2 separate regions of the Homo sapiens genome follow, and region 2 is linked to region 1. The links come from fine-mapping of genetic effects on gene expression. A gene starts in region 1. The other region holds a variant in brackets. All regions are shown on one strand. Distances are between the middles of the regions.

What was found. PIP is the estimated chance that this variant, and not a neighbour inherited with it, causes the effect.
Region 2: its variant is the best candidate, but not a certain one, in a credible set for the expression of PRSS3 in cerebral cortex (GTEx, PIP 0.90).

What each region holds. Positions count from the first base shown.
Region 1 is chr9:33,793,151-33,798,523 of GRCh38, reverse strand. It overlaps PRSS3 (serine protease 3), which reads right to left and starts at 2,963. Exons shown (of 5, transcript NM_002771.4): 1 at 2,911-2,963; 2 at 1,722-1,881; 3 at 442-695; 4 at 1-38. The coding sequence starts at 2,950. UBE2R2-AS1 (UBE2R2 antisense RNA 1) reads left to right here. Exons shown (of 5, transcript NR_170204.1): 3 at 1-156. RefSeq lists an enhancer at 1,914-2,414.
Region 2 is chr9:33,749,214-33,754,586 of GRCh38, reverse strand. All of the region lies in intron 3 of UBE2R2-AS1 (UBE2R2 antisense RNA 1), which reads left to right. It also overlaps a transcript of PRSS3 not described here. Among named protein-coding and RNA genes, the nearest start is that of PRSS3, 44 kb to the left of the region's middle. The variant C/G (reference allele first, on the strand shown) is at 2,865.

The DNA.
Region 1 (5,373 bases):
CGGAGCATCCAGGCACTTCAGCTCGTCTGGGTAGTCAGCTGTGAGGATCAGGAAGAGATCAAAGAAAGTAGAAATGTGGGTGAGGCCAGAGAAGGAGACAATAATCTGGGATGGAACATTGAAGAGGAACACTGCCTCTGGAGAGGACTCCAAAACGTAAGTTCTGGCAAGGGACTCTGGCTTTTAGTTTCCAGAATGATCATTGTTGAACCCCTCCCAAGACGTGATCACAGCAAGTTCTCCATTTGTCCTATCTCTTGATTTTAGGAGCCAAGTCCTTGAGACTTTGCATCTCTCTGGTGCCCAGTGCAGAGACTGTGTGTAATGGGCACTAGAAATGTGTCTTAAGCCGGGAGGCAAGAGGATTCAAATAAAGGGGCATGCTTCGTTCTGGAAATTGTGAGGATGGGGGGAAGTAGAAGGACAAAGGGTCCCACTCACCACCAAAGCTCAGAGTGTTGCCCCAGCCGGAGATGAGGCACTCAGTGCCAGCAGCTGGAGGGGTGGTGGGCAGAGAGATGGTGGACACGCGGGCATTGATGACGGCAGGTGAGGAGAGTTTGATCAGCATGATGTCATTGTCCAGAGTGTCCCTGTTGTATTTAGGGTGGCGGATGATCTTGGCCGCATTGATGAACTGCTCATTCCCCTCCAGGACTTTGATGTTGTGCTCTCCCAGTCTCACCTGGATGCGGCTGATGGGCAGGGCAGGCATGGTGAAGACCTTCTCCCACAGCCTGGGCACCCCTCCCACCTTCCCCAGGGTCCTCAAGCTCACTGCTCATGGATAGCTCTGGAGGCATGGGGTGGGGTGTGTGGCCATATTGCATGGGCAGGAGAGGGATGTGGGTCAGTGCAGGTGTGAGACCCAGGACCTTTCTGCTTCAGAGGCTGGTGGTAGTGGGGTGGGGAAGAGTCAAAGGGATCCCACCAGAGGCTGCTCCTCAACCTGCCTTCCCAGCCTCTTTCCCACAAATCTCCACAGTCACTAGCACTGTGGGCACAAAGAGCTCCTCGTAGTTTTCCCAGCATTCTTCACCCCAGGTCTTTGCTAACTGCGCACAGCGCCTGTTCCTCCCTCCCTTCTTGGCCTAGTGAGCACCACCCTTCTGTGTAATCTAATCCAAGGGTAGCCATAGCATTAGCATCTCCTGGGAACTTGTTAGAAATGTAAATTCTTGGTCCTTACCCCCACCCGCTGATCAGAACCTTGGGGATGGGACCCAGTGATTTGTGCTTTAATAAGCCTGCAGGTGGTTTTGACGCATACTCAGGTTTGAGAGTTCTTCGTGTAGGCAGCGGTTCTCAGCTCTGTCTATACACTCTACAGTTACCAGAGGTAGAGTGTTAAATACTCACTGGTATTCACACTGTCTTCCTGAGAAGTTTGAGTTAATTGCCCTGGGGTAGGACACAGGCATCAGTATTTTCAAAAACTCTGTCTTAGGTCGCTTTAATGTGTAGCTAACCAGCAAAAGGTACTTGCCTGCTTTTGTCACTAGCTCTGACAACTCCAAGATTATCCCTGCCTGCTTTTATGACCACAACCCTTGCTGTTTCATGGATTGGCCTTGCTCTGGAGAGTCAGCTGCTGTCAACAAGTTTTCTTTTCCACCACCTCTCCCATCCGTCTTACCCAACCTCAGTACTTCCCTGGGCTGAAGCCAAGCTCTCCCAGGCAGCCTGGCTGGGAGCTTTGCAGTCAGGGGCCCCACACTTACGTCTTGTAGCAGTGAGCTGCTGATACCACCCACTGTTCGCTGATGAGGGAGCCACCGCAGAAGTGGGAGCCAGAATTCAGGGACACCTGGTAGGGGAGAGAATTCTCCTCACAGGTGTAGCCCCCAACAATCTTGTCATCATCGTCAAAGGGGACAGCAACTGGAGTGGAAATAGGAAGGGAGAAGGCAAGTCAGTAGCATGTTAGGGGTGGTGCTCCCAGCCTGCGGTTGCTTCCTGCCAATTAGAAATCCTTAACAAGCCCAGTGAGGCCAGGCAAGGGAGGGAGCGCTGCCACCCCTGGTGAGCATCACTGGATGTGGCTCCCAAGTCTCTGTGTCTGCAGGGCACGTAGCTAGGTACCCTGCAGGGGCTCAGATCTCTCCTGGGGACACCAGGCTGAGGATGCAAGGAATGTCCTCAAAATGCTTCCAGTGGGGTAGCAGTTGGTATGTTGTTGTCTCACCCACTGAGTGCTTCTCTCTTTTATTCATCACCTGTGTACTTGCCCTGGCTATTTGAGCCCTGGATTGTCAGGATACTTTGGCTAAGCTAGGAAAACCCCCTGTCTGGGTAGACCTGGCCATGACTAGCTTCCCCCATAGCTCAGATCTGTGCAGTGAGGGCAGAGTTGAGGGCAGCCCCAGGCTCACTTTGGCATAACAAAGGTAGACTTTGTTATTGGCCAATAGAAGAGCAATTCTTAACTTTGGCGGCATGCCTGGAAACGTTAAAAATCACCTGGGAAGCTTAAAAGCCCAGTACACAGGCTGCACCCCAGACAAATGAAGTTAGAACTTCTAGAGTTGAATCTCTGGCATGAGTAATTTTTGAACCTCCCCAGGTGCATTCGAGGTTAAGAGCAGCTATAGTGGTGCTATACTGGTGCTCTTGGAGCCAAGCCTGAAGCCTGCCACTTCATTTCATGGGCCAGCCCCACCTGGTCTCCCTTCCCAGCTTCTCCAACCACAGCTCGGATATGGATGAATGACAGTGGTGGGAGTGAAATGAGGGAAAAGGTGAAACAGGTGAGGCTTAAAGAGAGCCCAAGGAGGATGGGAAGGAGATATGTCAGATGGAGGAAATAGAATATCAGAGCGCAGTCAAAAGAGGAGAGGTGGCAAGAATGGCAGGGCATGTGTCTGCCAGGAAAGGGGGTGGGTGGGGCCTGAGGCAGGTCATGAAACTCGCCAGCAGCTCCCACAAAGGCAAGGATCAGGAATGGATTCATGGTGGTAGAGTGTGCCTGACTGGTGGTGGAAGGCCTGTCCTTATACCCTTCCAAGAATCAGGAGAGGAGGTGTCTGTGAGGTGAGGGTCACAGTTCTTCCCAGCACAAACACACCTGCAGCTTTCCCCTTGCCAGGGTCTTGCATCAGCTCGGCTACGTTTGGCCACTCTGTGGGTTTGTGATTCACAGGTGATAAGGAAACTTGCCTTCTGAGAGCAGAGAGGGAGACTGGCTATTTCCTGGAAGGATGCTGGGATGGGGAAGACAGGGGAAACCAATCCCCGGATCACACAGCTGGGCTTTCGTAGGCCGAGGAGATGAGGGTTAGAAGGAGGGAGAATGGCCTGGGTGTCTAGGAGTCCTTTTAACTATTGGGGATGTATTTAATAATGTACTTAAGGAAGGGCAAGCATTGGTAACAAGCTTGGCTTTTCAGTTTCCTGGAGCCCCCACGAGAGGAGGAAAGTCTTATCTAAGGCTCATTTTTGTGAATATGAATATGCTTCTTTGCAGTCACTGTGCACAAAGGTCAAATCCAAGACTTTGGGTATCCAGAATTCCAACACTAAGGGGTAAGGAGAAGGGAGACTTAGCATTCCATAGGATTCTGGGCTTCCAGATGGCTCTCCTTCCTACCAAGGCTTAAAAGGATGGGAAGTGTTTCAAAGAAGGAGGGGACACAGGTTAGGTAGGAGCTTACTCAGTGCATCTGGAGGATGGAAAACCAATGGCGCACTCCTCCCCTTCTTCAATGTGAAGCCACTTGTCTCTCTCATGTGCATCCTGTCATAGGTTCTTTTTATGCAGCCTCACGGTTGTCCTGGCAACCTGCACTTAGGGTGATGCAAACTGACTCACCTGCTCAGGGCTGACAGCCTGAACCAGAATGACATGCCCCTGATCAGATGTCAGAGTTTGGACCATGGTAAATCTGGGTTACCATCTGATCTGAGAATCAGCAGTAGGTAGAGATTTTAGCACATGGTAAATGGGTCACATATTGGGATCAATAAGAAGATGTGGAGGGGTGGGTCTAGAATTTTCTATTTTAGATGCAGTGAGATTATGCTGGGCTTAGTATCAAGTGAATCTTCCCAGAGAATATCCTGATTTGGGCCCTACCAAGGCTACTAAGACACAGTTGTGTAATTGACTGAGGCACAACCTGGCCAGAGTAGTGTGGAGATGGAGATGCTGTCTGTGATCAAGTCTAATGATGTAAGGAAAGGAGGAGCTTCCTTATGAGGGTGCTTTCCCTTCTCAGCAACTCTGAGCTCAGGTTGGTGATGGGCAGGAGTGAGCAGAGTTCAAGTTTAAATTCTTTGAAAAGTAAAAGAAGCAGAGATGTTCTGGAGATGGTGAACAAAATGAGAAAAGCTCAGAAACTTCGTGTTGAGATCGGACATGGCCAGGGGGCTAGAGGGAGGAAGCAAATGGAAACCAGAGGGAATTGGAAAAAATGCGAATGTGGGGCCCGTGGAGTTGAGAGGACACACAGAGTACCTTCAGGTTCAGCTCCTGGCATGGCCAACGAGCCAGCTTCCCCAAAGCCAGGAGATCCACTGCTCAGAGACCCGCTCTCCACCCCACATCCCCTCTAATCACTGATGGGCTCATACCTAACACTGCTGTACTTAGATGGTGCATGGTGCCTGACAGCTTTACAAGAGTTTTCACATAAGCAACAGTGGTACATTGCTTTTCAGTTATGCTGAGTTTCACAGTTTGACTTCCCACAAACATGCTAATTGTGATTTGTGCAGAGCAAAATTATTTCCATTTATAGAGGAAGAGACTGAGATTCAGAAGGATTCTGTCTTGCCCAAGAATACAGATCTTGGCAGAGCTCACCATAAGGCCAACGGAAGCCATGGAGATCATTGTGAACTGTGGGAATTGCTGCAGGTGACATCTAAAAGGAGATTTATTGAGGATCAAGGCAGAGGTCCCCAGAGGACAAACTGTGCATCTGATTCCTTCCTCCTGCTTTTCTTCCTGGCAGAAATAGATGATTGAATTCATCTTTCTCCTGGCACCTTGTCTCAGAGACTTCCCTTGCCACAGTTCCAGACCCATCCAGGCCATGACTGCCATGTAGATGACACACCTCTCTGCTCACAAATGACTGGCCAAGCCTGAGGTATCCAGGTTTTGGAGCATTGATAATATGGGTTTTTCCTGTGTTGCCCCTAAACATGTTGTTTCATTTTGTCCCCTTGTCATGGGGTCTTCACACAACTCCTGCCTTAGAGGATAAGGAAAGGCTCTTGCTGTAGCAACTGTAGACACCAGTGTGCACTAAATAGGGAGGTGAACCTTGGCAGAAGATGGAAACTTTTTTTGGAGAACGGGATTTTTGGATCAGTGCTTGTGGCTCTGACTCTGTCTGAAAGGAACACCCAAGAATATGAGGATTTTCTGTA
Region 2 (5,373 bases), 44 kb after region 1:
AAGTGCTAGAATTACAGGCGTGAGCCACTGTGCCTGGCCCAAAATTCTTACTTTGATGTATTGGCATCGTGTCCGTCTAAAACACTAGATTCTCTCAGGTTCCCTCACCTTTAATAGTGTGTATGTGATATGGTTCTGGCCAATGACATGTAAGAAGTCTTTTGGGGTGGGCTACCAGAAAAGCTATTATTATTATTATTTATTATAAAGAAGGACAAGCCAGGCGCGGCGGCTCACATCTGTAATCTCAGCACTTTGGGAGGCCGAGGGGGGCAGATCACAAGGTCAGGAGTTCAAGACCAGCCTGACCAACATGGTGAAACCCCGTCTCTACTAAAAATACAAAAATTAGCTGGGCGTGGTGGTGCACGCCTGTAATCCCAGCTACTTGGAGGCTGAGGCAAGAGAATCACTTGAACCCTGGGAAGCGGAGGTTGCAGTGAGCTGAGATTGTGCCACTGAGTGAGACTCCATCTCAAAAGAAAGAAAGAGACGAGAGAGAGACAGAGAGAGAAAAGAAAAGAAAAGAAGAGAGAAAAGAAAAGAAAAAAAAAGACAAGACAAGACAAGACTCTTCTGGAGCATGCCTCTGCCCGTCTTTCTGCTGCAACTTGGGGAAGTGAGGATGAGAGCTCCATGCTAAGGAGGGTGGTGCGGGAAGACACAAGGAACCTGTCTCAGATGAGTTCATATCGGAACCCCTTTCCCAGCCTCAGGCTTCTCACCTCCAGACTTCTCCTTCTCTGAGAAAAACAAACTCCTTACTTGTTTAAGCCGTTGTAGTAGGGTTTTCTGTTCTTGTAGCTGAATGAACTTCTAATGACATGTCATACTTTTTCAGATGTTTATCTGACATACTGACCACATTTTATGTATGCCTGCTATGGGCACTGTGCTAGGAATAAGACAAGTAAAGCTCTGTTTGTCATGGAACCAGGAGAACAGTTAGAACAGAAGTTAGAACTTTAGCCACTATAATAACGGCTACAGTTAGAACAGAAGGTACATAGGCATTTCAGGCTGGGATTCAGGGAGGTTATGTTTGCTGTCACAGACCTCAAACCAAAAGAGTACATCAAAATAAGTCACTGGATTTATACATTTGGCAAATTCTCAAGAGACCACATGACAGAAGGAGCAATAATCTGAACATTGCTTTTAGCTGTAATTCTCCAATGAAGTAGATTTGGGGAAGCAACATGAGGTACTTGCTTTATTTTTTTAAATCCGTTTTTTTTCTTTGAAAAACCACAAGATTGGACTTGACAATCTTTAAGGTTATACCCAGCTCTAAGATATTTTTGTAATTATATGGAACAAAGATGGACATGAAATATACCAAATGAGAGTTTCTAAATTTAGATTCTGACAGTTCAAGTCAGAAAACATATTAAGTGTTCAGGAAAAACAAATCACAATCTTCCATCACAAAATTCAACAAGAACAACAAAAACCACTCCAGAGGCAGCTGTGGTATTCTGGAAGGAATGCTGGTTTGAGCTCCGGCTCTGCCATTTAATTCCTGGCTAACCCTGGACCACATACACAATATCTCTGTTTCCATCTCCTCATTTTTGAAATACGGATTCTAATCTTGCCTGAACAGTGCTGTTTACAAACATCGCCTTGTGCTCTATAAAGCCCCATTACGATTTCAACAACCAGCAAGATAATGGCTTATGATATCTAAGTCCTGGCAAGGAGAATGCAGGTGTGTACCTTGCTATATTCAGTTGAACTCTGCATCACATACAGAAGGCTGATAGACCTTTTAGCTTTCCTTTTTCCTCCAGCGGTGTAGTTTGTGGTCATTTAGTTTTTACACAAGAGAACAGAAAAGAGAGATAAAATTCGCTAAAATTCAGATAGTCTCTTTGTGTTTGTTTCTAGCCTCAGTGAAGGTTTCGGGGAGAGGGCTGGCTGGTTAAAAGGGTAGAAGCTTAAGAGTTCAAAGAAAGTGTGAGGAGGACAGCACTCACCTGTGGCCTCTAATTGTTCATATTCAGTATGGTCTCATACTGGGAATAATCTAGTGTTTGTCTTATGATCTGTCTACACAAACAAATATGGAATGTGTCTATAAGTACCACTAGTTGACACACTAGTGACTTTAATTCTCTTACAATAAAATGTTTTGCAATAGCAAGGACTTTGGCTAGGGGAGTGACTCTGTGTGGTGAAACTGTCCTCACCCATTTTACATTTGAGGAAAAGAGATAATCTTTTGATCACACCCAACACAGTTAACATCTGTACTTTGAACAGCTAAGTATAGCAGCTGATGTTTAACTGAAGGTAGGGGGGAGATGAGAAACAGAAACAACTGGTGCCAAATGTGAGATTCAATAACTTCGCCTCGGCCATCACAACCAACATCAACCAGAAGGGTGCGGGAGGAACTCACGGAATAAATGGGAACAGGTGTGGCCTGAGGATAAGTAAGTGGGGGCACTGTTTCCTTCTTCATGAAGATGTGAGAGGAAATCAAAGCTCTTTAAAAAGAAGGAAGTGGAATGCTTGGCTCCTGTAATATCAGAACAAATAATGCACAGCCAGAGGTCATGCCTCACCTTTTGCTTATCTCAGGCACCTCTGCTTGTAAAATCAGTGGGCCATATTCAATGAAACCTTCATTTCAGTTCCATATCTTTTCCCAGAAACCCCAGGAACAGAGCGAGCCAATATCCTTATTAAACCAAGAAGCTCGCAGTCACGAAGAGCTAAGTCTGACGCCACTGGGCCCCTACCTAACCACGTGTCCTGATTCTTTCCGTAATTTCCCACTGCACAACACCCAGGTTATACTGAAAATATAACACATCTGGTTAAAAACAGTACACGTTTCTCATGAACAATAAGCCATC[C/G]TTTCTATAAAATCAGTGTAAAATTGCAGGTAAAATGCTGTAGGCAGATCTGTTTGGAAGGCTATGCCACCCTAGGAGACAAAAAGGTGCGGGAGGAGGAAAACGGCAGACACGGCAGAAAGCAGTCGAAGAGAACGTGAAAGAAGTGGCCATTTCTGCAACTTTTAGGAGAGCTACCTGCCCTCAAATTTTGAAAGGGTTTCTATTTCTTAAAGTGCTAGGTTTCCCTGGCTGAAACTCACATCTTTCTTCCCTCTAGGGCTGGATCTAAGCTTCAGAGGTTGTTTCTCTGGCCCTAGACAGGGCCACCCCCGCAAATTTCTCCCCCACTGCGCCTGACATCCGCTTCCATCCATGGCTCCATTAACGGAAGCTAAGCACTGGATCGGGGGACTTTATCCACCGCCCAATGTTATTAGATTCCAGGCTTCCTGGCCTCAGGAAAGGATCTGGCTCATGTATTTGTGTATCGCAGCTAACAAGGAAAGGCAGTCGGGGTACCAGTGCCCAGAGCTATGTGAGCTGTGACTGGACACAGCTCAGGGGCCAGGTGGCATCCACGGGGGCGCGCGTTCCCGGACTCACGGGGCAGACGGAGGCCCGGGGCTTCACACCTTCCCCTCACCCTGCAACGCGGCAGACCTGACTCGCGGGGGACTGAGCAATATTCATTCCAGGGCCGCGGCCAGCCGGACATAGGCACTCGGGGGCGGTGGGAGTAGTGTGCGCATCGGTGCCGCAGCCCGGAGGGGGCCCCAGGTGGGCTTCTGCGACACCAGGGCCCTCCATCCCCTCCCGTCCTCCCCTAGAGGAGCCTCCATCCCTGTCCCTGAGCCCCTCCCAGTCGGTATCCCCTCCCTGTCCGCGTACCCTCCCCCGCAGGTCCCATGCGAGTCGGAACCCCCTCTCCATCACAGCCCCGCTCCTTGGCGGGGCTCCCTCTCCCTTCGAGCCCTCCTCCAGTTTCAAGCCCCCTGCGGGTACTGACGTCTGACCTGTGCCCAGCGCCTCGCAGCCGTCTGCATCCCGCGCCGCTCGCCAAGTGCGTCCACCCAGAAGCGGGTGCAGCTCCAGGCCCGCCCCGCCCCGCTGCGCCCCGCCCCGCTCCACTCTGCCAGGCCTGGCAGCCGCCAGACCCTTTCCACACTTGACCGCCCTTCCCGGTCCCGGCCAGCGTGCGGGGCATCTGTCGTCAGGTCCGCACATCCTCCAGGCCCTTGACCTTCCCTTGGAGATGTCTCTGGCCCCAGGAACTCCCTAGGCTGTGTGCTTCAGGAGAGGCTGGTTCCTGAGTCACCCAGGAGGACTGCAACCAACCGGGACCTCCTGGGATGCAAAGAGATCGCAGGGCCTGGGAGGCGGCGAGGAGCCCGAGCACAGGCTGTGGCTCTGAAGAGTGTTTGTTACCAAGCCAGGCAACCACTGCGAACACACCGGAGAAACAGCCACAGATCACCGTCCAGCAAAGGAAGAAGGCACCAACGGTCCATCAGGGACCACAACCCAGTTTTTCTAGTTTAAGTTTGGTGGCTAAGTTTGAGTGTCACATAGTTCATTCATTCCTTCATTCATTCAACAAATCTGCCACGTTCCCATCTGATAACAGATCTGACAGGTGGGCACAGTTCTAGGTGCTGGCAATAGAGCTGAGAAGGAAACAAAGTCCCTGTCCCGGAGAAGGGGGCTTCCTGCTGAGGAGCGCATGACTTTCTTTGTGGTATTGTGCTGTGGCAGCGGGGTCCTCTTCTGTAAGCTACTGAGAGGTGAAGCTGGCTGGGCTTCTGGGTCTGATGGGGACTTGGAGAACTTTTCTGTCTAGCTAAAGGATTGTAAAAGCATCAATCAGCGCTCTGTGTCTACGCTCTGTGTCTAGCTAAAGGTTTGTAAACACACCAATCAGCACTCTGTGAAAATACACCAATCAGTGCTCTGTGTCCAGCTAATTGGTGGGGACTTGGAGAACTTTTCTGTCTAGCTAAAGGATTGTAAAAGCATCAATCAGCGCTCTGTGTCTAGCTAAAGGTTTGTAAACACACCAATCAGCACTCTGTAAAAATGCACCAATCAGTGCTCTGTGTCCAGCTAATTGGTGGGGACTTGGAGAACTTTTCTGTCTAGCTAAAGGACTGTAAATGCACCAATCAGCACTCTGTGTCTAGCTAAAGGTTTGTAAACACACCAATCAGCACTCTGTAAAAACGGACCAATCAGCACTCTGTAAAATGGACCAATCAGCACTCTGTAAAATGGACCAATCAGCAGGATGCAGGCGGGGCCAATAAGGGAATAAAGGCTGGCCATCGCGGCCAGCTTCCCCGTTCGGGTCCCCTCCCACATTGTGGGAGATTTGTTCTTTCCCCTTTTGCAATAAATCTTGCTGCTGCTCACTTTTTAGGTCCACACTACCTTTATGAGCTGTAACACTCATGGTGAAGGTTTGCAGCTTCACTCCTGAAGCCAGCCAGACCAGGAACCCACCATGAGAAACAAACAACTCTGGAGCCGCCAT